Homo sapiens: one gene and its partners. The protein of the gene in region 1 purifies or fractionates together with the protein of each later gene. This does not show direct contact. Each region holds a gene or a part of one and is shown in the gene's direction. Other genes may lie near its edges. The genes, in order: FBXL4, CUL1, DNASE1L2, TRIM29, ACP3, SELENBP1 and PLCD1.

Evidence for each region.
Region 2: the proteins of FBXL4 (region 1) and CUL1 purify together in Homo sapiens (affinity purification with western blotting; 4 studies listed by BioGRID, with this or other methods). This does not show direct contact.
Region 3: the proteins of FBXL4 (region 1) and DNASE1L2 purify together in Homo sapiens (affinity purification with mass spectrometry; 2 studies listed by BioGRID and IntAct, with this or other methods). This does not show direct contact.
Region 4: the proteins of FBXL4 (region 1) and TRIM29 purify together in Homo sapiens (affinity purification with mass spectrometry; 2 studies listed by BioGRID and IntAct, with this or other methods). This does not show direct contact.
Region 5: the proteins of FBXL4 (region 1) and ACP3 purify together in Homo sapiens (affinity purification with mass spectrometry; 2 studies listed by BioGRID and IntAct, with this or other methods). This does not show direct contact.
Region 6: the proteins of FBXL4 (region 1) and SELENBP1 purify together in Homo sapiens (affinity purification with mass spectrometry; 2 studies listed by BioGRID and IntAct, with this or other methods). This does not show direct contact.
Region 7: the proteins of FBXL4 (region 1) and PLCD1 purify together in Homo sapiens (affinity purification with mass spectrometry; 2 studies listed by BioGRID and IntAct, with this or other methods). This does not show direct contact.

Annotation. Positions count from the first base shown.
Region 1 is NC_000006.12:98,878,211-98,882,229, reverse strand, and holds part of FBXL4 (F-box/LRR-repeat protein 4), read left to right. Parts: intron 1-1,605; coding exon 1,606-1,677; intron 1,678-4,019. UniProt on the Homo sapiens protein: Substrate-recognition component of the mitochondria-localized SCF-FBXL4 ubiquitin E3 ligase complex that plays a role in the restriction of mitophagy by controlling the degradation of BNIP3 and NIX mitophagy receptors.
Region 2 is NC_000007.14:148,705,403-148,709,421, forward strand, and holds part of CUL1 (cullin-1), read left to right. Parts: intron 1-4,019. UniProt on the Homo sapiens protein: Core component of multiple cullin-RING-based SCF (SKP1-CUL1-F-box protein) E3 ubiquitin-protein ligase complexes, which mediate the ubiquitination of proteins involved in cell cycle progression, signal transduction and transcription.
Region 3 is NC_000016.10:2,234,810-2,239,521, forward strand, and holds DNASE1L2 (deoxyribonuclease-1-like 2 precursor), read left to right. Parts: upstream 1-1,634; 5' UTR 1,635-1,751; exon of another isoform or gene 1,752-1,968; 5' UTR 1,969-2,007; coding exon 2,008-2,151; intron 2,152-2,228; coding exon 2,229-2,317; intron 2,318-2,408; coding exon 2,409-2,492; intron 2,493-2,566; coding exon 2,567-2,840; intron 2,841-2,957; coding exon 2,958-3,209; intron 3,210-3,552; coding exon 3,553-3,609; 3' UTR 3,610-3,902; downstream 3,903-4,712. Other genes in the region: transcription factor E4F1, read left to right, coding at 50-192, 272-334, 407-763. UniProt on the Homo sapiens protein: Divalent cation-dependent acid DNA endonuclease involved in the breakdown of the nucleus during corneocyte formation of epidermal keratinocytes.
Region 4 is NC_000011.10:120,134,869-120,139,638, reverse strand, and holds the start of TRIM29 (tripartite motif-containing protein 29), read left to right. Parts: upstream 1-1,525; 5' UTR 1,526-1,607; coding exon 1,608-2,411; intron 2,412-4,770.
Region 5 is NC_000003.12:132,330,716-132,334,734, forward strand, and holds part of ACP3 (prostatic acid phosphatase isoform PAP precursor), read left to right. Parts: intron 1-931; coding exon 932-1,018; intron 1,019-1,476; coding exon 1,477-1,629; intron 1,630-4,019. UniProt on the Homo sapiens protein: A non-specific tyrosine phosphatase that dephosphorylates a diverse number of substrates under acidic conditions (pH 4-6) including alkyl, aryl, and acyl orthophosphate monoesters and phosphorylated proteins.
Region 6 is NC_000001.11:151,363,497-151,366,966, reverse strand, and holds the end of SELENBP1 (methanethiol oxidase), read left to right. Parts: intron 1-62; coding exon 63-245; intron 246-513; coding exon 514-692; intron 693-1,120; coding exon 1,121-1,199; intron 1,200-1,282; coding exon 1,283-1,404; intron 1,405-1,685; coding exon 1,686-1,778; intron 1,779-1,922; coding exon 1,923-2,041; intron 2,042-2,261; coding exon 2,262-2,424; 3' UTR 2,425-2,663; downstream 2,664-3,470. UniProt on the Homo sapiens protein: Catalyzes the oxidation of methanethiol, an organosulfur compound known to be produced in substantial amounts by gut bacteria. Selenium-binding protein which may be involved in the sensing of reactive xenobiotics in the cytoplasm.
Region 7 is NC_000003.12:38,026,551-38,031,160, reverse strand, and holds the start of PLCD1 (1-phosphatidylinositol 4,5-bisphosphate phosphodiesterase delta-1), read left to right. Parts: upstream 1-1,518; 5' UTR 1,519-1,621; coding exon 1,622-1,655; intron 1,656-4,610. UniProt on the Homo sapiens protein: The production of the second messenger molecules diacylglycerol (DAG) and inositol 1,4,5-trisphosphate (IP3) is mediated by activated phosphatidylinositol-specific phospholipase C enzymes. Essential for trophoblast and placental development.

The DNA of each region.
Region 1 (4,019 bases):
GAGTTGACAAAACTGAGTGGTGGCTACATGGGTGTTATATTGGAACCTATACTTGTTTGTGTATTTGAGATTCTTCATAGTAAGTAATTTAAAAATAAATTACCAAACAAGTTGTGTGAATTATATGTATGTGTGTATTTATCTCTATGTATGTGTATTTTTTAATTTAAAATTTCTTACCAACAAGAATTTATGAGATTCTTTCTAAAAATTCTAATATTCTCTGGATCTTACTTAAGGGAAAATCTTATAAAACAACCTTTTAATATGGATATGGTCCTGTAATTAAAAAAAAAACAAACCTAATGTTATGTTCCTGTCTGTTAATTAGTTAACATGGCTAAGTATTGTGAAGAACCTGAAAATTAAATTATCTTAATATACCCTTTCTAATGTTAACATTCTGAGAGCTACATGGGATTGTTTTATAAATGTTGTTATGTTGAAACTTAAGTATAAAATCAATATAAACTTTTTTTGTTTAAATTCAAAGAAATGCTCAATAATGAAATAATTAGACTTAAGTATAATAGTCCTCTGTGGCCTATTGTAACTATTATTATTTTTGCTTTAAGTAACCTTACATTTGAGAAATATTTTATTACTTTATTTTCTCAATGAGAATCTTTATCTGGGATTTGACCAAATGTTTTACATTTTCATTGACACATTCTTCACCTTTCCCTCAACTGATAGTTTTTAGTTTCTGATCACTTGGAACAGATTTTTACAGAAGTTGTATAATATCTTAATTTTTAAATATATTTAAAAATGTATAAGATATTTTGCCATGTAAGTTTGAATAGTTTTCTCCTTAATTGATAAAAGAAAAATTAGAAATTTGAATATTTTGCATTATTTTGTTTTTCACAATTTTTCATAGCAGACTTTTTTAAAAAAATATTTTAGGGTGCCATGATTATGTAGCAGTCTTTGGGTTTCTTTAGTGGTGAGACCATTTTCATTGCACAGGATAGATGGGCTTAAATGGCAGGAACATGACTAGAAAGTACATATTATATATATTTCAGTCAGCATGTTGCTACTGACAGGTGCTCAATGGTTGTTGGTATCCTTGTCAGCAAAGAGAATCCTTTGACATTAAAGTCACCAGCTCAATCCTGATTTGGGGTGACTCTATTGGCAGTTCCATCAAGCTGCAGCTGATCAGTGAATGTCAGAGCTGCAGCCATTCTTCAGGAGTGTCACCAGCCTGCTGCGGGTTTTTTGTCTTTTTGTTTTTGTTTTTGGAGGGAGGAGTGGTTTAGCTTGTCTTGTTGTTCAATTGTAGCCAGACTTTCAAATTGCTTACCTTTGGGAAATGAACCGAGAGGTCATAGGGAATATAGGTATCTTTAGGGCATCCAAAACCATACACAAAGTGATTACTTACATGGAGACTAGTAATGATTACCTTGACTCCAAGCCAATCAATGGTGGAGCCTCTGGGGACTCATTAAATGGCATTTGTGGACTCTGTAACCTAGCTTTTGAGCTGCATTTCAGGAAAAGCAGTGACAGCCTTTAATGTCTAATTGACCTCTTCTCTTTGTTTCACTTTCATTCACTTTCCATATTTGCCTCTGATGTGGTCCCTAATGGCAGCAAACAGCACTGCTCAGCATTTTGAACTTCTGTTCAGAGCTTCAGCACCTCAGTTTAGGCAGTTGTGTCATGGTAAGTGTTTGAGAATTCTTTATACTACTCAATTACTTGTTCTCTTTTTCTTCCTATGGGTGAAATGTATCCTGACTCACCCTACCCCACACACACCCACAGTTTTTCAGATTTATGGTTCTCTTCTTTGTCCCTTGCTTTCAAACATTTTTCTTAAATTGGAAAGTATGTCTTTGAAACACTGACATTATTTATCCATGAGAGCAAGGAAAGAAGTATAGTGTGGTGGAATAGAGTATAGTTCTGCCTCAAGCCAGATGTTGTCTCCGACAAGCTAATCACCTCTCTAGGTTTCTTCACAAACTAAGGTGTTAGTCATACCTAAATGCCGATAGTTCAGTAAGTTTTTCACTAAGCTCATTTTAGCTTTTAAATCCTGAGATACTTTTCTTGAAATTTTAATGATAATAGATAGGTTTATTTTATCTGTTTGTTTTTGTGTTTGTTTTACTGTCCTTACTGGTCAAAACAGAAAGATTAACACCCTATGTTGGAACTCTTTTTTGTGTGTGGAAATTTTACTGGTCTGTGAAATATAAAAGCCTAGGGACTGTTGGACTAGATAAGCTTCAAAGTCCTTCCAGATTTTTTTTTTTTTTTTTTTTTTTTTGAGATGGAGTCTTGCTCTGTTGCCCGGGCTGGAGTGCAGCGGCGCGATCTTGACTCACTGCAATCTCCGTCTCCCGGATTCAAGCAATTCTCCTGCCTCAACCTCCCAAGTAGCTGGGATTACAGGGATGTACCACTATGCCCGGCTAATTTTTTTGTATTTTTAGTAGAGATGGGGTTTCACCCTATTGGTCAGGCTGGTCTTGGGTTTCACCATATTGGGCAGGCTGGTCTTGGGTTTCACCATATTGGGTAGGCTGGTCTTGAACTCCTGACCTTGTGATCCGCCCGCCTCGGCCTCCCAAATTGCCGGGATTACAGGTGTGAGCCACTGCGCCCAGCCTAGTCCTTCCAGATTTAAAATACGATTTTATGTGCCCTTGAAAGAGCTCATGGAAAGAGTTAAATGTTTTAATCTAAACCACATAATTATATAGCTTTTAAATAATACTGAGATATAAAGGACAATAGAAATCTTGTGTGGAGAAGGTGTGCATGTGTGTGTTTGTGTGCACACATACCGTAAGTGAATCTTCCAGTGTAACTGACTGGAAGAATTCATTCCTCCTCACTTCATCCCCTGTTCCCTAAAACAATGTAGGTTTAGGAGATCCCCAGACCATTCCATTTCTGCCTTGCATTCACTTAGTAGGAAGACTTGAATTAGCAAAATGATTGCAAGATTCTAGAAAACTTCTGGTATGCTAGGGAGTATTTGCTTTAAGTAACCTTACATTTTGAGAAATATTTTATTAGAGTCAATAGACAGGGTCCCTGACCTAAAATGAGTACCATTTGAACACCTCTTAGAGCTCAGTGTGGCTTCAGAAATGCCTCAAGATTTGGCAGTGTAGACTAAGTAGGCCTCTTTTGATGACATATTTATCTCTGTGTCCCCATGGTCTTTAAAATCTTGTGGTTAGGTCTTATTAAACCCTAAGTATGGGCTCAGGCCATCTCAGTCTCTAGAAACAGTCTTGGGAGCCCACTAGATTTTCCTCACTTCTGGTCAAATTCTTTCCATAGTAAGCCATTTGATAGGCTTCTGTGGGTCTCTTCAGTGACTCTTCTTGATGGACCCGATGACATTTGATGGCAGTTTCTGTCACAACAAACCAGCCAGTTACTGCCACTTGGATCTTCCTTATTGCTAGCCTGCTCTCTTTAGATTGGTAAGGACCATTTAACTTTGCTTAGATGTACCTTATTCTGCTTGTTATTTACCTCCCCTTAAACTGGAGCAACATTCCTTAGAAAATCAAGCCTCTGGCCATAGACTCTTTACTGTTGGAATTATATATATGCTTATAATTGAAATTGTATTATTTTAAGTTAGCATTTTCCAGAGTTGACCCATGGAAAATTACCTCTAAAGGATAATCAATTTTAAAGGCTGTGTATTTGGGGGTGGAGTGGAGATTCCTAATGAAATTAGGAAGCCAGGTATGGTTGCTCAAACCTATAGTCCCAACTACTCTGGAGGCTGATGTAGGAGGATTGCTTGAGCCCAGGAGTTTGAGGCTGCAGTGAGCTATGGTTATACCACCGCACTCCAGCCTGGTCTTAGAGTTTTACAATGGTGTGTGCTACAACAAAGAAACTGTTTACCTTTGCTAAAACCAGTGTTTTCAAACCTTGCCTGACTACTGAACTCATTTTTCTATATTACATTTTCCATATTACATTTTATTGTTGACTGTCAATATAATAGCAATGTTTAGATTTGTGATATT
Region 2 (4,019 bases), on another chromosome or scaffold:
GGAAAATTCAGAGGCTACCATCAATTATTTAAGAAGTGTATGCTAAATAGTACAAATGAGGAATACTGTTGTAATTATGAGAAAACCGTTGCACAGAAACGTGTCACCTAATGCTGGGAGGGGGCACCTTTGCTATGTCGAAATTAATTAAATGCTAACTAAAATAGTTACGTGTGCCTAATAGGCATCCGAAAGTCAGAACGGGGGAAAAAGGCTGACAGCTCAGACCTCCTTTTCTCAAGGCAGGAAGGAGGCTTTGGTGAGACTGGAAGGAAAGGTTTGGAATCCTAGATGATGTCAATAAACCAGACTCTTTGATCCCAAGTGGAATTCAGGGAATAGACATGAAGACTAGGCCATTTCCCCCTCCCCAAACTTCAAGCTTATCTATAGGAACTTGGAGACTTTGGTGTGGGGGATGGTGGAGAAGAAAAATTCCAGACTGATTCTTCTGACTTCTCTCATTTTAAATACGTAAAATCTTTAAAACGTTTGCTTGCCATTTTATCTTACATGCAATAATAACCCTTAGTCTAGGTTGAGCATCCCTAATTTGAAAATCCTAAATCCTCCAGAATCTAAAACTTCCTTAGTTACCAACACGATGTGACAAGTGGATCATTTCACCCCGACCTCATGTGATGGGCCACGGTCAACATGCAGGTGCACAACAGTTTATTCAGTGTCCCCAAGGGGAAAGTAAAATTACCTTCAGGCTGTGTGTATAAGGTCTATATGAAACATGTGAATTCCCCGTTTAGATTTGGATCCCATCCGCAAGATACCTCAAATATTCCAAAATATGAAACAGTCTGAAATTCAAAAGACTTCTGGACCCAAGCATTTCAGATAAAGGATACTCAATTTGTGTTCAGTGCTTGGTATGAGCCAAAGACTGTGCCGAGCTTGCTTTGTGACTCCCTAGCTGCTTGCCCTCAGCTTTCTGCTGCTTGGAGATACCTCAAATGGGACAGAAGGCTGTCTAATGCAGTCCTGGTTGAGGATGGACTTTGACACACAGCATGGGAATATATTACATCAATCATAAAGTAGAGACTACTGAAATGAGAGGGTCTCCTATTTGATGTGTTGATGAAAGGCTACTTGGGCATCTGTGTAGAGTAGGTCCTACCAACAAGGGACTCAAAACACACAAAGGGAAGAAGGGTTAGGAATGCTGAAGACACATACTGAAATTGGCTCTTCAGTAGTGCCTTTGTTACATGTTCTATATATAGGGGACTTTGCCCTATACAGGGTATGTGTGTTGGGGGTGGGGGCGGCGGGGGGCGGGGTGGGTGTTTAATGTCTGCAGTTTAGCTGGGGCTTTACAGGTGAAACGTACTGTATGTGTTCTCTCGACATTATGAAGATTTTGTTTGTTTTGGTCACTGGTATTTTTATAATGGAGCTCTGCCTTACTACTCTACTTGTTTTACTGCATTTTCAGGATTTTTATTTAGGCCAATATTTGGCTGTCTGTGTTCTGTGATATGTAAGGTATGGGAATAGGAGGGAAGATCTGTGAATAAACGTAGGAAATGCCAGGTGGCATATTGAAGGGCCTTTAAAATCTTAATTTGTTTTGCTGCTGTTACAGGGAGATATATCTTATAGGGTATGTATATATGTATACATACCTACATTCATATATATTAAAAGGTCCACTCCTAATTTAATAAGAAATTACCTTTGAAGGAAGAAAACTCCCCTACCATATTAACATGTTTTGTAGAACACATACTGATTTTAAAATCATCGAATGTGGAAAATTAGGTCTTTACAGTAGAGATTTGATATGGAGTGAATTGATGTGTTCATTTTTTTCTCTTGGAACGAGCACCTGGAAATATTCGTGGTTCTTTGTAGCACAGTGTGGGAAGTGCCATAGAGGCCAGGATCCTAATGAGTATGGTTATAAGTTTAGTGTCTAGAAATAATTTTTGCTTCACCCTAGTCCTTGTTTAAATCCTAAATACTATCAGAGGAATTATATTAAAAAAATTTTAAAGCATATGGGAGACAACACAATCAAAGCCTGTGTCATTTACATGTTATTGGTGGTGTCATGTTGAGATCACTTTTTATTTTTTTAAATAATAATTTTTTTTTTAAGTTTCAGGGTACCACAGGTTCGTTACATAGGTAAACGTGTGCCATGGTGGTTTGCTGCACCGATCAACCCATCACCTAGGTATTAAGCCCTGCATACATTAGCTGTTTTCCCTGGTGTTGGTCCCCACACCTTCCCTGACAGGCCCCAGTGAGTGTTGTGCCCTTCCCGGTGTCCATGGAGAACACTTTTTAAACCTGTAAAATAATGGTTTAACTACAAAGTTGTTTCACATTTTTTCTTTAAAAATCTAAAACTTCCTGGGTTTTAAAAGCATCTCAATACTTCTCTTGAAGGCACTCTTAGATTTGTACTTGATTCATTAGATTGGTTCTCTTGCATTTCCAATTCATGGTTTCCAGAGGGTGAACGCTGTTCTCAGGATGTCTTGCGTTAGAGGAGTTTAGGAAGCATCACCAGGTCTGTTCTCCAGTGTCCCCTTCTGAGTAGGGGCCACATCGCTCATTTCCCAGACTTGTGGACCAGGTTACCTTTCTTTTTTCTTGGGTGACCTCCTGAGGTTAGGGTTCTGTGCAGAATACTTGCTGTTCCAGTTCATCTTATCTTTTCTAACTCTTCATGAGCATTCAGGAGATAGCTTTAACTTGATCCTCTCTTCTAGTCTTTTTTGCTTTGTGGTTTCTCAGTTTTTTCAGGTTAAGCAATTCTCAGCAACTTCAGCTGAGAGCCTTGCAGTCCTGCTAATAGCCTTCAGGGCTTTTGCATTTGACTAACCTGGCCTTTCTTCCAACTTGGCTTGCCCCAAACTGATCTCTTTTTTGCTCCCTAGACCATATCCGACATCTCTATTTCTAGCGTTGTGTCAGAGACACAGATTTCAGACTTGACTTCTTTTGTTTGTCCATATTCAGTGATCTACCAAATCTTACTAGTTCCTCCCCCATAACACTATGTGTTTATACCTTCCTCTTTGGCCCCGCTGTCACCAGCTTCATTCTGCCCTCACGCCTGGCGATGCAGTGCGCTGCTGATTGCTGCTTCATTCAGGACTTGCCTGGCTTCCTTGATTACAGAGGCTCTCCAGGGCAGGTATTGGGCTGCTAGCATTTGATAGAGTGGGCTCTGCTCTTTGTCTTTGCAGCCCTTTGCCACAACCATCCTATCTCATCTTCATAAGCTTAAAAAAATCCTGAAAATCTAGCTGTGTGTATCATGCTAACATGCTTTTTAAAAAAACTGGCTCTGCTGCAATTTTCACTTGAAAGTAGCTGGATGTTGGTTCTGGGTATTTGTCTCTATCTCAGCTCTTCAAACTGGGAATGTGATTTCTAGTAACAACATTTAGCAAAATTTCAACAAAGCAACCAATTTGCGGAAGTTGTGTTAACTTTGAGGTTTTGCCATAATAAATTATAAATGTTGGAATTTTTCTATTGATAAGGCTAACTTGTGGAAAACTGATTAAATAATTCACTGATTATAACCAGCAAACCATATATTACACTAAAGTTTTGTTTCAAAAATATGGATATTGTGGAAGATGAGTATCCACATAGCTTTTTATGGTAAACATAGGTGAGCGTGTATGTGTAACTAGGATAGTGATTCCCTTAATAGTTATAGGAAAAGTGATTCTAAAAAGCATTCTGACGCCTCTCTTGGCGGCAGTGAATGAAACTACAGTTTCACATTAAAAAGAGTACTTTCCCCGCCAAAAATGCAGAGGAGGATTTGTTTTACTGACAATTGAGTACAGGCCAAACTGCGTATATGCGCATACATACTCTGGGCTTTGTGTGTGTGATTTGGCAAAAAGAAAAATAGTCCTAAAGTGTGCATCTCTTTATTCCATTGTATTTATATTTTTCAGAAGTTTATTTATTTGCAGTTTTGATGTGTACATTTTATTTTAGAAAATTGAATGAAGTTTGTGAGATTCAAGTCC
Region 3 (4,712 bases), on another chromosome or scaffold:
GGGGAGGGGGCCGGGGCTTGCCTAGCCCTGACCGAGTCCCCACCCACAGGGGGCTGCCTGCTGGAGGTGGAGGAGTTGCTGGTGTCTGAGGACAGCCCCGCGGCAGCCACCACCGTCCTCACGGAAGACCCGCACACAGTGTTGGTGGAGTTCTCGTCCGTGGTAGCTGACACCCAGGAGTATATCATCGAGGTGGGTGTGGGGCCCTGGGGCCGTGCTGGGACCCAGGGGCAGCCAAGGCTGACCTCTGTCCTTCTGCCCATCTGCCCAGGCCACTGCGGACGATGCGGAGACCAGTGAGGCCACGGAGATCATCGAGGGCACCCAGACAGAGGTGAGGGGTAGGGCAGGCGGGGGCGGGGAGGCTCCCTGGCACAGCCGCTCTTGCTGAGCCGTGGCCCTGCAGGTGGACAGCCACATCATGAAGGTGGTGCAGCAGATCGTGCACCAGGCTAGCGCCGGCCACCAGATCATCGTGCAGAACGTCACCATGGACGAGGAGACGGCGCTGGGCCCAGAGGCGGCTGCCGCCGACACCATCACCATCGCCACCCCCGAGAGCCTGACAGAGCAGGTGGCCATGACGCTGGCCTCGGCCATCAGCGAGGGCACTGTGCTTGCCGCCCGGGCAGGGACAAGTGGCACTGAACAGGCCACTGTGACCATGGTGTCATCAGAGGACATCGAGATCCTGGAGCATGCAGGCGAGCTGGTCATCGCCTCGCCGGAGGGCCAGCTGGAGGTGCAGACGGTCATCGTCTAGCATGAGGTCTGCGGGGTCCTGGCCGGGCAGGGACAGGGCAGAGGACTCTGAGCGCCCCACCCATGCCTGCCTGGCCTGGTAGAGAAGATGGCACAGGATGGAGGCGCCCCAAGACGGACAGTGTACATAAGAGTTTCTTGTTGCTTTACAATAAAACATGAGAACCTGCAGCTTGTGATGTTGTGGCAGTGGCAGCCTCCGCGGCTGGTGCCACCACCTTTGCCCAGGCCCCCGCAGCAGCACCTGCCTCCCAGGCCACTCCTAGACTCACGTGCCTGGCCGCCCCACCCAGGGGCTTCTGCCAGCCCTGGCGGCGCCTTGGTGCTGTGTGGGTGTCATTGGCATGTTGACCAACAGCCTCCTGCCCTGCCCAGCTGGAGCTGTGCCCCCAGCTGCGCTGCCTGAGGCCTGTGGGTGGGTGGGAGGACCAGGGACGGGGACAGGGAGATCTGGGAGCCTCGGCCTCCACCGCAGGGTGAGCAGGTGGAGCAGCAGCAGGAGATGCTGGGTAGGGAGTGTGGCTGGTCCTACCTGCGCTGCCTTGCTTTCCCTGAAGGGATTCTGCTCAGGGAGGCAGAGTCTAGGCGACCTAATTTCTAGGGGCGAGGACAAGAACACAGCCGCACCGGGATGTGGCTGACCGTCTACCTCCCTCCTAGGGGGCTGGCAGGGGCTTCTGGGACGGTTTTGGGACAGGTCTGGGGCACCAGAACCGGCTCAGGCAGGTCTCCCACCCCTTACCCTGGGGGTCTCCATGGGAATGAAAGCCAGGAGTTCATCAGGCACCCAGCTGAGTCGAGGGGGCGGGACCCAGTGCAGCCCGGCCCCTCCCTGGCCCAGGACCTCAAATACCGGCCCCTGCCTTGGTGCCAGAGCTACTGCCAGAGGGAGTCAGTGCAGTCCTGTGTCGGACACGCCCGCAGCCTGGACCCGGGATCCCCATCCCCCTAGGATCTCTGAGCCTCGGGCCTCTGCACCCACATCCAAGGTGAGTCTCTCGGCTGCCCTGAGCTGGGGCTGGATGGGCCGGACCCTCCATTCCGGCTGCAGCTTCCCGCGCAGTGAGAAGGCAGCGGTCCCTGAGAGCCCAGCAGTGCCCTGGGAGCCTGCAGAACGCAGGGGCGGATTCCGCGTCGCACTGGCCGTCAAGGGGCGGCCGCGGAGGGAAGGGGTGGGTCGGTGGGTCTGACAGCGGGTCTGCGTAGGCGGCAGCGTCTGTCCCTCCCAGCCTCTCGCTCCGCGCCATGGGCGGGCCCCGGGCTCTGCTGGCCGCACTCTGGGCGCTGGAAGCCGCCGGGACCGCCGCGCTTCGCATCGGAGCCTTCAACATTCAGAGCTTCGGTGACAGCAAAGTGTCGGACCCCGCTTGCGGCAGCATCATCGCGAAGGTGGGGCCCGGGCCGGGGCGGGGCGGCGTTTAGGGGTGCTGACCGCGCTGACCCCCGCACCCGCCGCTCCTCCCCAGATCCTGGCTGGCTATGACCTCGCGCTGGTGCAGGAGGTGCGAGACCCAGACCTCAGCGCCGTGTCCGCGCTCATGGAGCAGATCAACAGGTGTGGTGGGCAGGGCCCCTCGTCGCGACCCCCCGCCGGGATCTCGCCCCGGCGCGGCGCCCCGACCCTGAGCGGGCCCCTGTCTCCGCAGCGTGTCCGAGCACGAGTACAGCTTTGTGAGCAGCCAGCCCCTGGGCCGGGACCAGTACAAGGAGATGTACCTGTTCGTGTACAGGTGAGGGGCGGGCCGCAGGGAGGGGCGCGCGGGGCCGCAGGTCGGGGGCTCAGCGGGTCCTCCCCATCTCCTAGGAAAGACGCGGTGTCGGTCGTGGACACCTACCTGTACCCAGACCCCGAGGACGTCTTCAGCCGCGAGCCCTTCGTGGTCAAGTTCTCGGCCCCCGGCACCGGTGAGCGGGCCCCGCCCCTCCCCTCCCGCCGAGCTCTGACGCCCCCACCCCTTCCCGCAGCAGCACAGAACCTGGTGCTGATCCCGCTGCACGCGGCGCCGCATCAAGCCGTGGCGGAGATCGACGCGCTCTACGACGTGTACCTGGACGTGATCGACAAGTGGGGCACCGACGTAAGCCCACCCCTCGGTCCCGGGGTCCCTGCAGGCGCGCCCCGGGGGTCTGGTTCATGAGGGCGGGACCTCGACGGCTCCTGCGGCGGCTCAGACACGGCTCCGCGGCGCCCGCAGGACATGCTGTTCCTGGGCGACTTCAACGCCGACTGCAGCTATGTGCGGGCGCAGGACTGGGCCGCCATCCGTCTGAGGAGCAGTGAGGTCTTCAAGTGGCTCATCCCTGACAGCGCCGACACCACGGTGGGCAACTCAGACTGCGCCTACGACCGCATTGTGGCCTGTGGCGCCCGCCTGCGCCGGAGCCTGAAGCCCCAGTCGGCCACCGTGCACGACTTCCAGGAGGAATTCGGCCTGGACCAGACTCAGGCGAGTGGGCCGTGGGGCGGTGCTGGTCTTGGGTCCCCACCGCCCGGGCGCACGCAGGCAGCAGGGAGGGTCCAGCGCCCAAGGCAGGGCCACCTCAGCTTCCTCCCTGCACCAGGGCTCGTTTCCAAGGACCCTGGAGAGCCCGGCCCACCCCATGTGGAGCTCTGGGCAGGCAGGGTACCTTGCCTTTCCCTCAAAGGGCCAGTGGTGACACCCTCTGCCCCGGCCCCTGCCCCTGCCCCACCGCAGGCAGCAGCAGGGGTGGGCACCCAGGCCTCACCGGCCCCTCCCATCCCTGTGGGTGGGGTGCACTTTTCCCCTGAGGCTCACTCTGTCCCCACAGGCTCTTGCCATCAGCGACCACTTTCCAGTGGAGGTGACCCTCAAGTTCCACCGATGACTCGAGGCCTGGCTGGGGCATGCCACCTGCAGACCCTGGCTCTGAGGAATGGCCCAACAGTGGCCCCTTCAGGGTGGCAGCCACCCTTCAGTGAGGCCCCAAGGCAGAGTCGGCTGGGCGTGGACCAGGGGCCATGGACACGTGATGTGCTGCTCTGTACCTCCGTTCCCCATCTGTGGGACGGGCTGCATCCAGCGACCTCATGGGGTGTTGTGAGCCCCATGAGGGGTGCAGGGGGCACTGCCCGGCAGATGTCTGCTCAATAAATGAGCTGCTCCCGGTCGGGCCCCACAGCTTGGCTCCCAGGCCTCTGTCCTTCCTTAGGACCCAGCCTCAGCTCCTTAGGGGCAGCCATGGCCTGGGCTGCCCACCCCATGTCCTGGTGGGACGTGGCTGCCCCCGGAGCCTGCTGGCCCCAGAAGGCAGCTCAGGGATGCTCCTTGCTCATCCTCTGTGGAAACTACAAACACTCCCAGGAGCCTGTACTGTGAGCACAGCTGGGACAGGGATGGCGCCAACACACCAGCCTCCTGGGCCCTCGGGGCTCTCAGAACAGCTCTCCCCAGGCCCACCCCGCAGCCCCCATTCCAGGGCCCTGCAGGGGCCCCCAGGCACTTGTCTGTCTCAAGAGCCCGGTCTTACCCAGCACTGCAAGGGGAGGCCAGCCCCAGCTAGTCAGCAGCCCTGGAGCTTTTGGAGAGCCTGAGAGCAGTGGGCGGGCTGGACTCCTCCCTGCCCAGGCAGGTGGCTTGGGACTAAGGTCCCGTGCAAAGAACCGCCCAGCTCGCCGTGGCTCAGCCCTTCAAGGCTGCTGCCCTGTGCCTGGGCAAGGACACATTAGGATAGGGAAAAGGCAGGCCCACGGGTCCACTGGGTCACTGACTGGGGCCCGATGAGGTTTCTGGTTTTTGAAACATCACATCTTAGCAAGATGTGGTAACTTGGTCTGAATCGCATGGGAGGAAAAACCTTTGTTTCAAGGGTTTGGATGAGTTTGGTTCTTGCAAAATCCTTCTTAAGGGACATTTGGATCCCTGGCAGCACAGCTGCCTCCAGAGTCCCACTCCCGCTGGCTCAGGATCCCCCAGTTGCTCTGATTCACT
Region 4 (4,770 bases), on another chromosome or scaffold:
TACATCCTCTCATAAGTGAACTGCTTTGTGAGGTGGGCTTGTCTCTGCCCTTGTTCCCAGGGGCTGTTTTTGCAAAGGATTAGCTGCTCAGCCTGGTGAGGCAAAGGGGCGGGGGCTTCCTAGCTTGACATGGATTGGAGGGGAAGGAAGGGAAACCCATTCCCCTCCACACAGCCCAGAACCTGCCACGCCAGCCTCACCTACTGTCTGCTCTGCCCTGCCCAGCCTGGCCTTGGAGAGGCACGGCCCTTTCCTTAGGGGTTTGGAGGCTTCCTAGGACCAGGTCAATGGGTCAGAGCCCAGAAGTGGCTGGGGGGCATGTCCTACAAGAGCTAAGGGTCCTGGTGTTCCGCAGGGGCCACGGAGAGGAAGGGGATGAAGTTTGTTTTTCTCACTTTTCTTCCTGAGGTCTGTATTTATATGATAGTCATATTTGAACAGGTGACTTCTGAGATTATCTGAATCTCACACTTTGCTGACCTCTTTTTGGAGGGCATTGCCTGTGGCCTGGCCCAGAGAGGATGGGCAGGTGTTTTCTGAGTCACACAGCAGACCAAGTGTGGAGACAGGTGAGAGTCAAGTGTTTGGGCCCTGAGGACCCAACCACCTGGGCTGGCATTGCTTGGATTCCCCTCATTGTTGTGCCTTGGTCATTTGAATCCACGCAGGTAGCAATAATCTAAGGTCTATATGTATCTTGTTGGGGCCATTGGGATAGGACAGACTCTCAGAAGCCATCTTCTGATGAGATATTCAGGTGACTCCATGACCACCCAGCTGAAGAAGGGACTTTGGCTTCTCAAAGGCTTAGGGTTCAAATCCCAGCTCGGCCACTTGACTTAGGCCAGTGAGTTATCTTCTTAAAGCCTGTTTTCTCATCTGTTAAAAAGGGGTAATTGAACAGGTTTTAGGGAAGCCTGAATGAGCTCGTAATATATGCAATACCTAGGAAAGTGCCTGGAGGTTGGCAAGTAGGGTTCAATACTCAGTAGCCAAATCAAATGGAACCCATCCTTCCCCCTTAAGGTGAAAAGCAGCGATACAGTCCCAGGGTGGACAATCTTTCCTCTGAAACTCAGGCCTGCAAATTACAAGGCTATTTGGCTTGTGTGACCCAGTTAACAGCCCTGTGTCTGGTAGGCCTCTGCAGACACCTCACCTTCTGCCCCAGGGGCCTCTGGGCTCAGTGAAGCCTGCCCACTTGTGAAGACGGAGACTCCCCGCTCCCCGGATGAGAAGCAAGTGCGTCAGAGGGAAGCAGCCCAACTGGTTGCTGAGTTGTGGAAAATAAGCTGGGGGAGAAAAAACACTTCTTTTAAAAATCAGGTTAGGGATGAATGTGCAGGGCGTGGTTCCTGTGCAATTATCTGCTCTGCTGGCTGCGGGGCTCCCTGCTTCTCCCGGGCCGCTGTGTCAGGCTTGTGCCTGTTGCTCCTCCCCTCCACTCCTCCCCCTCCTCCTCCTCCGCCTCCTCCCCCTCCTCCTCCTCACAGGTGTGTCTCTAGTCCTCGTGGTTGCCTGCCCCACTCCCTGCCGAGACGCCTGCCAGAAAGGTCACCTATCCTGAACCCCAGCAAGCCTGAAACAGCTCAGCCAAGCACCCTGCGATGGAAGCTGCAGATGCCTCCAGGAGCAACGGGTCGAGCCCAGAAGCCAGGGATGCCCGGAGCCCGTCGGGCCCCAGTGGCAGCCTGGAGAATGGCACCAAGGCTGACGGCAAGGATGCCAAGACCACCAACGGGCACGGCGGGGAGGCAGCTGAGGGCAAGAGCCTGGGCAGCGCCCTGAAGCCAGGGGAAGGTAGGAGCGCCCTGTTCGCGGGCAATGAGTGGCGGCGACCCATCATCCAGTTTGTCGAGTCCGGGGACGACAAGAACTCCAACTACTTCAGCATGGACTCTATGGAAGGCAAGAGGTCGCCGTACGCAGGGCTCCAGCTGGGGGCTGCCAAGAAGCCACCCGTTACCTTTGCCGAAAAGGGCGAGCTGCGCAAGTCCATTTTCTCGGAGTCCCGGAAGCCCACGGTGTCCATCATGGAGCCCGGGGAGACCCGGCGGAACAGCTACCCCCGGGCCGACACGGGCCTTTTTTCACGGTCCAAGTCCGGCTCCGAGGAGGTGCTGTGCGACTCCTGCATCGGCAACAAGCAGAAGGCGGTCAAGTCCTGCCTGGTGTGCCAGGCCTCCTTCTGCGAGCTGCATCTCAAGCCCCACCTGGAGGGCGCCGCCTTCCGAGACCACCAGCTGCTCGAGCCCATCCGGGACTTTGAGGCCCGCAAGTGTCCCGTGCATGGCAAGACGATGGAGCTCTTCTGCCAGACCGACCAGACCTGCATCTGCTACCTTTGCATGTTCCAGGAGCACAAGAATCATAGCACCGTGACAGTGGAGGAGGCCAAGGCCGAGAAGGAGGTAAGTGCTGGGGCCCCTCCTGCCCCTCCAGGCCTCTCCTCTCTCACCCCACCCCTCCGAACTTCATCTTCTCCACTCGGGCTTCCTCGGGTTTGGGGCTTAAGTTTCTACTGTCCTTGGCTCTTTTAGAAAACATTTATTTCCCCTCATGCCCCCTGTCCCCCCTAATCCCAGCTGGGGATCAGAGGTTGCTCCCCAATCCCCTAAGGTCTCAGGAGACAGGGACATTTTCTAGATGAGCGGATGGAGACTCAGAAAAGGTTGAGGGCCTGACCAAAGTCATAGGATAAATTCGAGTCAGGTTAGAGAGTATGACCCAACTGCATAGACCTCACTTCTGGGCTCTGTGCCTGGCTGAGGTGTTTCTTTCTTCTTCTTCTCCTTCTCCCTCTTCCTCTTCTTCCTCCTCTTCTTCTTCTTTTATTTTTTTTTTTTTTTGCTTTGAAGAAGAGATAATTCCTCCAACCTGAGTCGGACTGGCCCCTGGGGAATGGGTTGTGGGTGAGGAAAGATACTAGAAGGAGAGAATTTTGGGGCCCACTGAAAGGTCCTTCTTGCTGTCTTTGTAGTTTTTATTGTCGTACAGTGGCTTCTTGTTCTAGCTGATCCCCAGCTGGTCTCTTGACTTCCTCCACAGCCTCCTTTATCCTTCTCCCAGCTGGGCCCTGTGTTTTGCGTGTGTGGTTGTGTGTGGACACACATATTCCTGCAGGCGGACACCGTTGGGGAAGTTTGGAGTTTGTGTGTGGATGGCGTGTACGTGTACAGCTAGTCCCTGACTTAGGATGGTTTGATTTACAATGATGTGAAAGTGCTATGCTTTCAGTACAGTATTCCATAAAATCCAACACTTTATTACAAAATAGGCTTTGTAGTAGAAGATTTTGCCAAACTGTCGGCTAATGTAAGTGCTCTGAACAAGTTTAAGGTAAGCTAGGTTAAGCTATGATGCTTGGTAGGCTAGGTGTATTAAAAGCATTTTTGACCTATCACATTTTCAACTTACAATGGGTTTATTGGTAAATAACCCCATCACAAGTTGAGGAGCATCTGTATATGTGTTTATTTTATGTGCACGTGGGTGTTTTTGTGCCTTTGTGGATGTTTGCATGTATTCATATATGTGATACGTAAGTGTGTTTGCATGAGTTCTATGTGACTGTGCCTGTACTTCTATGGGGAGGAGCAGAGGCAAGTGCAGGCTTGTGGATGTAGCATACCTGGGGAAGGTGATTTGGGCAAAGGGCCCAGCTGTGGCCACTGCCCTTTGCCCCACAGATGTGGGGCTCACTCTTCCCTAAGGTACACAGCTTCCTGCTGTGGGTGGCCTTCCTGGGGCAAACCTTCCTGGCCTCCAAAGCAGTGAACTCCACTTTCCTGAAGAGCTTCTGCACACCTCAGATCTGGACAGCAGAGGATTCCTTCCTGCCCAGCCTTCCTGACCAGGAGGAGCTGGTTGATTACTCTTTCCCTTCATCTCTCACCCACACCCCTGGACAGAAAGGGCTGAGGTAGAGAGGGGAACAGACTCACAGATTCCTTCCAGAAGCCTCGTTTGGCCCAGGAAGAAGATGTTTCCAGCTTCCCCCATCTTCTGACCCCAGCGTGGCCTCAGGTTTCATACTGAGAGATATAGATGGGACGGGGCCATGAAACTCATTCTAGGGAGTTTACTTGGGAGGTTAGACAGAACAAGAGGCAATCATCCTCATCACAGCAGCTGAGAAATTGCAGAGCCTCAGACAAGGTTTTAGGAAATGTGACCGAGTTCCAGTCCCAGTTTTTGCCTCTAACTAACTGTAAGGCTGTGAATAAGTCCTTTCCACGCTCAGTCTCATTCTCCCAAGGGGTGAGGCTAGATTGTTGGTTTTCAAATTACCCCACAGAGCCCTGGAATTCTTAGACATGTCTTCGAGGCCTCAGGATGAGGAGGGGGTAAAGAAGTGTCAAGAAGGCGGAGCATTCAGGTTCCCACCTCGACTACAAGCAAAGGACATTCTTATTGATTATCTTCTATGTGGGTTTGGCCTCAAATTTGGTCTCAACCAAGGATATCTCTGCTTAAGCCTGGGCACCCCTGGAAGATGTGGTTCTGGTGGGCAGGAGGGTCTTGGGCAGCCCTATGTGGATGTGCCAGGAGCTCAGAGTTCAGAGTTCGGGTTCTGGCATGGGGGCCGCTGAGGGACTCACAGTTCTTCCTTGAGGGAGGGCTCATGATGTGGGTCAGGAGGCAGGGCTCATACACACAAACAGGACTGGGGAGCGCCCGTCTAGTTACACAGAGCGGCTAGAAGTTAACGTCAAACCGTAGTAGACAGAATGCCGGGCCAACAGAGTATTAGCCACCCCCTCAGTGTCC
Region 5 (4,019 bases), on another chromosome or scaffold:
AAGCAGCAGCCACCGTAACAACCTCCTCTCTGGCTCCCAAAGCTCTAGTAAGGCTCTGGATTAAAGACAAACTTGAATGCTGCATTTCCAAAGCATGGTGCTCTACTACATGCATCTGAATCACTTGGGAGACTTGTTAAAATGCAGATGTCAGGGCCCCACTCAGGAACTAATGAGCTGGAATCTCTGATGGAGATGCTGAGGAATCTGCATTTCAACATGCACCGCTGGATAATTTTGTTTCTGATGCACGGTAATGGTTGTGGACCACTGAGCTAATGCAGTGCATCTCAGTGATTACTGTCCATCAGAAGCTTGTTAAAAAATATTCTTGAGCACCACCCCCAAAGGTTCTGGTTCAGTAGGTCAAGGGTGGGGCCCAAGAATTTGATTTCTATAATGCTTTTAAGTGAAGCCAATACAGACCACACTTAGAGTAACATGTTCTAATTTTTTTATGAACCAGGAATTAATAAACTGGGCAGATAGTAAAGCATTGCCCACAGAGGTTGAAAGAGACTTTCAGATTCATCGAGTCTAATCTCATCAGATGGTTGAGCTTCTTCCACAAAATCCCCACCAAGTGGGTCTCTTTGAATGCTCTACCAACAAGGATCCCACTACATCAGAGATGAACCATTTACTTAAATCAGATCAATCACCCAACTATCAACTAAGCACTTACTATGTGCAAGTCTCTATGTTAAGTGCTAATGAAGATAAATGAGTTTTCTCAGGGAGTCAGGGAACTGTAACTAAAGAGTACAGCTCTTTTGTTTTCACTTAAATATGTGTCATTATTGTGGAACTATTAAACCACACCATTGTTCATTCTACACACATAATGAAAAAAAAAATCAACAAATTTTTATGATAGTGTGATTCATAGAACTTACTTTCATTAATTTTTGCTTTTATTTTTTTCCCATAGCTGGGCATGGAGCAGCATTATGAACTTGGAGAGTATATAAGAAAGAGATATAGAAAATTCTTGAATGAGTCCTATAAACATGAACAGGCAAGTTGGGGAGCCAAGAGTGGGAACTTTGATCTTTGAAATAATTAAAATAATTCTGCATATATAAAAGTGCTTTGCCTGTTTTCCAAGGAACTTATACAAGTCAGAGGTCTTGTTTACAAATATATTCCTCTTTATGCAAATTTTTGTTCCAAAAAGTTTGTGAATATGAGTAATTTCAAGATTTTATGAACACCTGAATAAATACTTTGGCTTGACAAGTAGCCACTGCTTAATTGATCTCATTTGTCAATTCAACTATTGGCCAACCAGGTTGCTTTGTACCATGATCATAATATTGCTCATTCCTTAACAAGTATTATGATTCTGATGTTAGCACAATGTCTGTAATATTTCACTGTGGGTGTCCTTTCCTTTCTCTAATACCTTGGCAGCTCTGTAGAAAAAAACCTCATGCTCCCTTTACGTTCGCTTCTGCTTTGATTTTCCTACTCTAGGTTTATATTCGAAGCACAGACGTTGACCGGACTTTGATGAGTGCTATGACAAACCTGGCAGCCCTGTTTCCCCCAGAAGGTGTCAGCATCTGGAATCCTATCCTACTCTGGCAGCCCATCCCGGTGCACACAGTTCCTCTTTCTGAAGATCAGGTCAGTATACTGGGAAAACCAGGAGATTTCAGATGGACCTAGAATGAGGAAGGCAGGCTACTCAACAGTTGTGGATTTGGGAGTCTGGACACTCCTTGAGCTGTGCAGTTTTAATTCTTTCTTAAATAAAGATACAAAGGACAATTTAGGACATGGAAAACCCTAGCTAAGAGAGAGTAGGAACCAAATTTCTCTTTGGATCTGTATGATCCACTTTGTTTTGCCACTCTTGCAACTCTTGGCAATTTGCCCCCTCATCGTCATACACAGAGAGAGAGAGAGAGGGAGAGGGAGATAGACAAGTCCCCCAGTGTTCTGCCTTAATTCCCAGGCTTTTGGTGCCCCAAACAGGTTTCTCCACTCTCCAGATTATCCAAAGATATTTATACCACCAAACACTCCTCCACTCATGAAAATCCACATTCCTAGGTAGAGAAAAAAAGATTTGAGTGCATAATCATTGCCTAACATTTTATGTGAATCATTGTGTTACCTTTCATAACAACTCTGAATGGACAATATTCTTGCTCTCCTTTTATAGTGAGGGAAATAAGTGCTTGGAGAGGTTAAATAACAAACAAATTGGTCCAAAGCAACACTGCTGGCAAGCATCACTCTGGGATTAAAACTAGGCCTATTTCATTCCAGAGCAATTTTCTTCCCTATAAAATCATGATTCTCAGACTTAGCTGCATATTAGGATCACGTGGTTTTTTAAAAAAAATCCTGATGCCCAGGGCACTCTCCGTAAGAAATCGGAATGTCTGAGGGTGGACCCAGGCATCAGTGTTTGAAAAATAATCTCCCTCGATGATTCCAGTGGGGAGGCAAGTTTGAGAACCAGTACTATAAACTAAGCTGCCTGAATGGGGCTGTTTGAGAGAAACTCTCAAACGTGTTTACACAGGTTGGGACCGACCAAGCTTTCTTTAATCTTTTCAGAGGAATGGGTATTTTTAAAGTAGCAATAGATAAATCTAACTAATCTTCCAGGTGTGAAACTTAAGGCTATATGAAAGAAATAGTTTGGGACAAAGAATCCCTTCCTAATTTCCCTGCAGTCCCATCATAGGCATGACCATCGCATCTCTTTATGGCTGAAGCTTAGCCTGACTGCTGGACCCAGACTTTTGCCCAGTGACCTCTGGGGTAGGTTACTATCCTCTTTGTCCTGCCAGTACCCCTAGAAATTTGACTTAATTGCTGCATCTAGGGACTTAGGGATTTTTCCCAAATGCTGTGTAGAAAGTCACTGGAGTTAAATCTACTCCAACCATTTTTCTGCTGTTTCTTGAAAAGACAGGATGATTCATTTACATCTCTTTTCCTTCACAGAATCATGAGGGAAGTATTGTGATTACCAGTGTTAAGCATTTGTGAATATTTTATTCCAAAAAGAAAAAAAATCACTTTACCAGCCTTTTCTGCAGAGATAAAGACTGGAGGTCAGGTGCGGTGGCTCATGCCTGTAATCCCAGCACTTTGGAAGGCTGAGGCGGGCAGATCACCTGAGGTCAGGAGTTCGAGACCAGCCTGGCTAACATGGTGAAACCCCATTTCTACTAAAAATACAAATATTAGCTGGGCATGGTGGTGCACGCCTGTAATCCCAGCTACTCAGGAGGCTGAGGCAGGAGAATCACTTAAACCTGGGAGGTGGAGGTTGCAGTGAGCCAAGATCGCACCGTTGCACTCCAGCTTGGGCAACAAGAGCGAAATTCCGTCTCAAAAATAAATAAAAAACAAAACAAAACAAAGACTGGATAGCAGCACCAAAATTTAGCAAAATGTAGACCACAACAGCTATTTAACAATTAATCCTGAATGATAGTAATTAAGTTACACAGAAAGAGAATGCAGGTGCTAGTAGAAGAGGAGGAAAGAAACAGGGAGAGTGAGGGAGAGAAAGAGAGAAGCAAGGAACATTATCTACCTATGGCTTCCATCTATCTGATTCACTAAGGTCAAAAAAATTCTCTCATATCAACTAAGAAATCTAATGAAACCAATCAACACTAGCTTATTCCTAGCATTTAGCTGTGCTGAATGCTGTAGAGAAATAGGAGGCGAAGTTTTTCTAATTTATAGTTTGATGAAAGCAAATTAGCATGTGTGAAATGTGTAGAAGACATTATAAGATGGCGGGCAATAATTTCAAGTACAAGCCACATATGCTGGGTGAAGTCAGAGAATGAGACTTACGTGCAGTTACCACAGGGCCGTCGTTCAGGTCTTCATAAAGAGAGTGAGAACTTGAACCAGACCTCAGAGGAGAGGGAGGAAGGAGAGGAAGGCAGCACAAAAACACGACCATGAGTGAATATGTAGAATGCCAGTTCTTCTGTGCCCAGAGTTCATATTTAGAAAGAGAATGAAAATAAAATTGATTA
Region 6 (3,470 bases), on another chromosome or scaffold:
TGGAGGGTGGGGTTAGTGTCTCTACTGCTTCTACCTGCCACCCTGCTTCCTTCCCTGTTCAGGGGGTTTTGTGCTGCTGGATGGGGAGACGTTCGAGGTGAAGGGGACATGGGAGAGACCTGGGGGTGCTGCACCGTTGGGCTATGACTTCTGGTACCAGCCTCGACACAATGTCATGATCAGCACTGAGTGGGCAGCTCCCAATGTCTTACGAGATGGCTTCAACCCCGCTGATGTGGAGGCTGGTGAGAATCCCCCCATGTGCCAGCAGGAGCCTTGGGCCTACATCCCCTTGCTTTCTGCTCCAAATCTCCCACCCCCACACTTCCCTCCTGTGGCCCCAGAATCTAAGAGAGATGGCATAGGATGTACCGCATGCTCAGATTGCTCAAGCGTCTTCCTGATCCCTCCAATCCATTTCTTAACCTTCTGCCCTGATTGGTGGCCCAGTCTTTGCCCATGCCTTCCAACCTCTGATGCTGAGCCTATCCTCCGGCCCCACTCCCACCCCAGGACTGTACGGGAGCCACTTATATGTATGGGACTGGCAGCGCCATGAGATTGTGCAGACCCTGTCTCTAAAAGATGGGCTTATTCCCTTGGAGATCCGCTTCCTGCACAACCCAGACGCTGCCCAAGGCTTTGTGGGCTGCGCACTCAGCTCCACCATCCAGCGCTTCTACAAGAACGAGGTGACATACGCCCTCTGGCCCTCCCCTCCCAGTAGTCTTGTCAGCAGCTCTACCTAAGCAGGCTTCTGTAACGGTGCTCCCAGGCGTCTCCAGGAACGAAAAAAATGAGGCTGCATGCCCTGTCTCTCTTCTCTCAGTGCTAGGGCAACTTCTGCCTGAACCCTAACTGGCCGTATTTATCCATTCATTCAAAAACTACTTAGTGAATGTCTGTGCTAGGCACTGTGCTATGTTCTGGGAATGCAGTGGTGAAGCAGACACAACCCCTGCCTCAAGGGGCTTGCATGGAGTTAGATCCTGCTGGCAAGAAGGCCGGGCATCTATTCTCTCCCTCCCAGGTCTGGGCAACCCAGATCTAACCCCTAGTCCCCAATTCTGATAGGCTGACCTCTCTGCCAGCTAACCTCACCCTCCACCCCTCAATGTAGGGAGGTACATGGTCAGTGGAGAAGGTGATCCAGGTGCCCCCCAAGAAAGTGAAGGGCTGGCTGCTGCCCGAAATGCCAGGTGAGTGCCTAGGGCATAGGAAAGTTGATTCTTGGCCTGGGAAACAAGAGTCCTTAAAGGCTCTACTCGCCCCCTGCCCACAGGCCTGATCACCGACATCCTGCTCTCCCTGGACGACCGCTTCCTCTACTTCAGCAACTGGCTGCATGGGGACCTGAGGCAGTATGACATCTCTGACCCACAGAGACCCCGCCTCACAGGACAGGTGGAGACCCTGGCAGGAGGAGCAGAAGGGAAGGAAGGAAAGAGAAGAGAAGCTGGGGATGGGGTGGATGATCTGAAGCAGCTGCAGGATGTTGAGGGAGGTGCAGGAAAAGCAGACATGTGTGCTGTGGGACAGCACAGGCCCAGGACTGTCCAGGCCAGGGATGGGCATGCAGAGCATGTCTGAAAGGAGAGAGGGGTTCCAGCCAGGCAAGCTGCTCTTCCTGCAATGTTTGCGCCTCCCACTATGGTCCTCCTTATACTCTGCACCTCCCCATCTAGCTCTTCCTCGGAGGCAGCATTGTTAAGGGAGGCCCTGTGCAAGTGCTGGAGGACGAGGAACTAAAGTCCCAGCCAGAGCCCCTAGTGGTCAAGGTAAGAGCCTCTCCCCCTACTTGCTGGACCCCTCAGACCCATGCTTGAGGAATATGTGGGGGAGCAGCTGAGCATACTCTTGGGGTTGGGGTGGTGCCTAGGATCTGTGTGTTACCCTGGGCTCTGACCCCTGGTTTTCCCAAGGGAAAACGGGTGGCTGGAGGCCCTCAGATGATCCAGCTCAGCCTGGATGGGAAGCGCCTCTACATCACCACGTCGCTGTACAGTGCCTGGGACAAGCAGTTTTACCCTGATCTCATCAGGTGAGAAGCAGACACATGGGCTCTCCTCCCCAGCCCTCCTCTTCCAGAGGGGTCATTTGGCTTTCTGAAGACTCCTCAAGGAGACCCCTGTACCCCACCACACAGATGGCCCATTGAGACCCTGGTCATTCCTCCTTCCTCAGGAGCTTTCCCCTAAAATCTTAGGGGAAGGGGGCAGCCACCTCTGACCTCTCCCTTACCCCATTCCCTTTTCCACCAGGGAAGGCTCTGTGATGCTGCAGGTTGATGTAGACACAGTAAAAGGAGGGCTGAAGTTGAACCCCAACTTCCTGGTGGACTTCGGGAAGGAGCCCCTTGGCCCAGCCCTTGCCCATGAGCTCCGCTACCCTGGGGGCGATTGTAGCTCTGACATCTGGATTTGAACTCCACCCTCATCACCCACACTCCCTATTTTGGGCCCTCACTTCCTTGGGGACCTGGCTTCATTCTGCTCTCTCTTGGCACCCGACCCTTGGCAGCATGTACCACACAGCCAAGCTGAGACTGTGGCAATGTGTTGAGTCATATACATTTACTGACCACTGTTGCTTGTTGCTCACTGTGCTGCTTTTCCATGAGCTCTTGGAGGCACCAAGAAATAAACTCGTAACCCTGTCCTTCAGATGGCCTTGTCTTTGGGGGCCCAGGGCCTGTGTCTCTTCTTCTGCCTACCCTTTGTATCATGCACAAGAAAGGGCTAAAGAGGCCTCCAGTGGGGGTTATGGTAACTAGTTCACACCAGTGATTCCAACATGATGCTAATAATGCCCAAATCTCAATTTTATGGCCAGACAAAATCTGAAAATTTTGGGGGTGATCGTCACAAGGAGACCTGGGGGTAGAGAATGTAAATCGGTGTTTCTAAAGTTTTGGTTTTTTTTTAACCCATGCTTTCTTTTAATGAACCTAAAAATCTCACCCATCACTCTCAAGAGAATGTAACATGCTCCCTCACACACAGGAGACCCCAGGATCCCTGTTGTGTATAGTGTAATATATTTCCACTGATGGCAAGACGACTGGGAGAACGCAGCTGTTGGGAGGTTTATCAGGCTGCTCTTGCATTGCTATAAATGCCTGAGACTGGGTAATTTATAAAGAAAAGAGGTTTAATTGGCTCATGGTTCTGCAGGCTCTACAGGAAGCATGACACTGGCATCTGCCCGGCTTCTCAGGAGGCCTCAGGAAACTTACAATCATGGCAGATGGTGAAGGAGGAGCACAAACATCACACGGCCAGAGTAGGAGCAAGAGAGAGAGAGCAAGGGGGGAGGTGCCACACACTTTTAAACAACCAGATCTCAGGAGAACTCACTCACGGTCTCAAGGATAGTACCAAGGGGGGTGGTGCCAAACCAGTCATGAGAAACCCACCCCCCATGATCCAGTCATCTCCCACCAGGCCCCACCTCCAACACTGGGAATTACA
Region 7 (4,610 bases), on another chromosome or scaffold:
GAAGCCATGTCCACTCCTGGTGTCAGAGTTTCACTGTGACGCTGCCTAGGAAGAGGAGGGGGGCTTGAGGAGGCCTGATTTGCTGAGTACAGGGGCTTGCAGGCTCCAGGAGTATCAGAGGTGCAAGTGGTAGGCTCCAAGGCCTGAGGAGGCCTCCAGAGGGCAGAGAAGGGGACCCTTCTTCCCCACTCATCCCCTGTATGGAGGTCCAGAGTGATGCCTGCCAGTATGAATTTGCTCATCCCTCAGCAAACATGGAGTGTGGCCCTGGGCAGAAGGGAAACCAAGGAAGGAACTGACAGGCCTGCCCAGGGCAGGGGTGTTCGCACTGCAGGACAGGATTGGAGCTGAGTGCCAGGTAAGGGGTGAAGCCCCGTCTGTGGAGAGGGGGCATGCAGAGCAGGGGGCTCTCCAAAGCCCAGAAGTCCTGATCCACTTTTAACCCCCAGAACCAGAAGACTGTCCTTCAGCTGTTTCACATCCCTTATTCAAGGCCACCTAGGGCCCAGAAGAGGAGGGATTGGGGTGAGCCCAGCCCCCTCCCCGCAGAGCTGGTCCAACTAGCTTTGCCTGACTCTCACATTGGCCTTATCAGCCCAGGAGGCCTGGGTGGCTTCCTGGGAGGCCCTCTGGGGGCTCTCTGACACCAAGAGCCCAGTTTTCCCAAGGGACTCTCCAAAGGGGTGGTGGGCAACAGGATCTAGGGACCCTCCCAGGGTCTGTGGTGGGAGGGGTCTCTGGGCAACCTATAAAGGGGGTTTTCTGGGTCCCAAGAGTTAGGGGGTGGGTCTGCATAGGGACCTTGCCCAGACAGCCCCTTGGGAGGCCACCTGAAGAAGGGACCCTGGGGATCCTCCCCCTCGGCTGCATGGATCGCTGGGGTTTTGGGATATGAGTGGCTCAAAAGTGAAATCCGTGCACCTGCTTGCTTCCCCCTCCCACACCCCCAACACTCCACCAAAGGCACTCTTGGGGTTAGAAACCTCCCAGCGAGAGGGAAGGGGACCCTCCTCCCGACAAGGTCCAGGTATTGCTCTCTGAAGACCTTCTAATCGTGTCCGTGCACCCATTTCGCAGAAGGGAATGCGAACGCTGGGAGCTGCGGCTGGAAGCCTGGACGCCGCGTCTCCCTAGCGCAGCAGCCCGGCTGGGCGTCGGACCTTACACGATCCCTTCCCCGGGATGACGCCGGATTCTTTCCAGCATCACCCCGACCCCAGCGAGGCGCCCACAACAGGGCGTGGGGCCCGGCCGCCCGCGGTAATGACAGGGCCCGCGGCCCGTGGGTGGCGGCGGCGGAGGAAGCTGGAGGAATCTGGCTATTTCTGGTCGGGGCGCGCCCGCTGGCCCGGGCCAGGGTTGGCCAGTCCTCCGGGCCCCCAGCTCTGCCCTCCCTCTCGCGTCCCCAGAAGGGGGCGGGGAGAGACGAGGGTTGGCGGGCTCAGGGGGCGGGGGCGCAGGGCAGCGGGGGCGGGGCGGTGTCCCGGGACCACCCCCGGCCTCCTCCCACCGCGGTCCATTCAGGTCCCTGCACCGCACTCCGCTCGGACCCCAGGCCGCCGGTGCTGTCGCTACTCAAGTGAGTCCCGCGGTGCCCCTCCCGCCGCGCCGCCCGTCGGGCATGGACTCGGGCCGGGACTTCCTGACCCTGCACGGTGAGTGCCTGGCCCGCGCGAGCGGGAGACCCTGCAGGGGTGGACCCCTGGAAAGCTGTTCCGGGCCCTGGACAGGGAGCCCCCAGCTCCTTCGGCCGCCTCCACACCACCCCGGGCCCGCCTCTCTGCCCCTTCTCCGGACTGGGAAAATCTCAGCCCGCGGCTCCCTGGGTGGGACTGCCGGGCACGACCCTGGGCGTTTCCAGGCTTGTCCGAGATCTAGCCCGGGGGGTGGGTGGGCGGGCGGTACGGGTCTAAAGACTTCCCTCCGCCTCGCGGACCCCCTTGTCCTGGTCATGAAAGTCTGGGCTCCACGATCCCGCTCGCACGGAGGGGCGGCGAAGGAAGGAAACAGCATCCAAGAACGACCAAAATTCTCCTTGCCCCATCCGGGCCGCCCCAGAGGCTCCCCAAAGCCTGGGCGTGCCTGGACCGCGTCAGGCCGCGCGGGTGTGGCGGAGCAGGGGCTAAGCGGGTGGGGAGAGGAGGTGTGCAAGGTTAACCGTGGTCGGGCCGTGCAGCCTTAACTGCCCAGCGCAGAATAGTCAGCGATGCTCAGGCTGAAAGAAGCAGCACGATCCCCTCATCTGCGACCCTCCTCGGGGGACAGGGCCAGGTCTCAGCCGGAGCTGCCTGCTCCATCCTTTGTCCAGCGGAGCTTTGTTTCCTCCAATATGAGCCAGCTCTTTGCCCTTTCGCTGTCCCTCCAGCAGCGAGGGGAGCCTGGGCTCCCGAAGGCAGATCTGGAGGCCTTCTGGGAGGCGGGAGGTTGGGGAGGGTAACTTTGGGCGCCTCTTTGCTCCAGGACAGGCACTCACTCACTCTTGGTGGGGGCTTGCCCTCCTGCCCTCCCAGGTCACTTGCCATCTCAGCAAACCCTGCTCCTTTCATACCAATCACTGCTTTACTGTATATCCCTCTCTTTTTTAGTACCCTTGGGGTTGGAGGCTTTAGTGGCCACCACCCATCCATCTAAACTGTTCATGGACATAATAGATGGGAAAGAGAAGGGCAGAGTCCTCTAGCCTTCCACTAGAGTCCCCCTGGAATTTAGAGGGACTTAGAGATGTTCCCATCAGCCAGCCTCCAGTCTATCTCGTGTTCTGCAGTTGGCACAGACCTGGTCCTCCTGGCCCAGAGAGACCTTGCTCTGTGCCCAGAGCTGTTGCTTTTACACCAATAGCCTAGGCTCCTTAAAGCCACCTTGTCTAGATGAGTCATGGAGTCCCTGCCCCTTCCAGTGCTCCCTCTTCTTTCTTCAGGCCAGAGGTGTCTTTCGTGCGCCTGCCAGACTAGCAAGAAGGGAGGCTGGGCAGCTGAGAGGACACAGTGGACATCTCTGCTTTCTCTCTGACACAGCGTCATTCCTTGGCTCCTGTTGGAACAGGCTTCATCCTCAGTGTCTGTGCCTTTGTCCAGTTTCTCTCCTGAGGCAGCCTTGATATCTTTTCCATGGAGGAAGACACATGGAGGCTCAGTCAGGACCTCCCAGTCCTGTGGCATAGGCTTGGCTGCCCTGGCCCACCCCATTTGAGACCAGCCTCCCAAATGCCTAACTCAGTCCAGCCTTTCCTGAAGGGTTGACATGAACACTGTGACCCCAAGCTGTTTTCCCTGAAGGCCCTGCCACTTCTAGCTCATCACCCAAAATTACCTCAACTGCCTTCTGTCCACACTGCAAACCAGATGGGGAAATAAGAACCTGTCAAGGAGAATTGTTGGTGGGAGGGGGTGATCACTGTGCCCTGTGCTGTTCCAGGTTGTCTACACTTGCATTGGAGAGTCTGCATCCGTTTCACAGTGTGGGTGCCCCAGCACTGGATGTGCTGCAGGACCACACTCTCTGGCCTAGGGCTCCACACTCTCTGGAAGGAGCCCAGAGGGACTCCTTCTGTTGGCCTGGGGAGCTATGCGGCTCACCTAGATGTGACATGTCCCTTCTGTCCTCACCCCAGATGCATGCAGAAGTAATGTAGTTTACTGGCATAGATTCTGAAAGCAAAGTACCTGAGTTCAAGTCTTGGCTTTCTCATCTCAGATGAATCCCTTGACTTCCCTGTGTGTCAGTTTCCTCATCTGTAAAATGGGGGATAATACCATCTACCTCATAGGGTTGCTACGAAGATTGAATGAGATAATATCTACACAGCAGTTAGAACAGTGCCTGGTACCCAGTGAGTACTATGTTCCTGCAGGAGGCCCCCTCCCCAAATTTCTATGCCCTATGAGTTGCCATCTGTAGTTCTTTGGGAGATGATGGGGGCATCATAAGGTAGTTCCTAGTCATGGAAAATAGGGCCAGAACTAGATTCAAGAGCGAGCCAGCCAGCTCTTTCTAGTGCCTCTGAAGCCCTCAGACTGATGCGACAGCATCCATCCTCCTTCCTTCACCTTACTTCTTCCACTCTTTATTCTGGCTATGCCTGGACTGGCTTCTCTAGCAGGTCCCCCGATGTGCCCCAAAGGACATTACCTCCCAGGGCCCTCCCCTCACTGAACACCCCCCACATACACACTAACTTTTCCTACACCCAATCCCTTTTGCCCCCACCCCTGCAAGAGGTGCCGTTTGTAAAAACAGAAAATAGAGGGGCCTCATCTTGGCCCCAGTAGACCTGGGCTCCAGTCCTAGCTTTGGTTCTACTTACTGTGGGTCTGAGAATCATCCATGGGATAGCAGTACATATTTCACAGTGGGTGTTGTGAACATAAACGCCAATGGGCATAGAAATTCTAGGTTGCCCCAAAAACCAGTCCTCCAAGAGATGATGATTCCAGAGCTCTTAGCAAGTTGGGGTGGCCAGCTCCTCACTCACCTGTGTTCCAAAGCAGTCTGCCCCTGGGCTTCCAGGCCCATGCTACACAGGCACACACTGATCCACACCAATCTTAACTTTTTGTGCCACAGACCACTTTGGCAGTCAGGTGAAGCCTGTAGACCCCTTCTCAGGATTA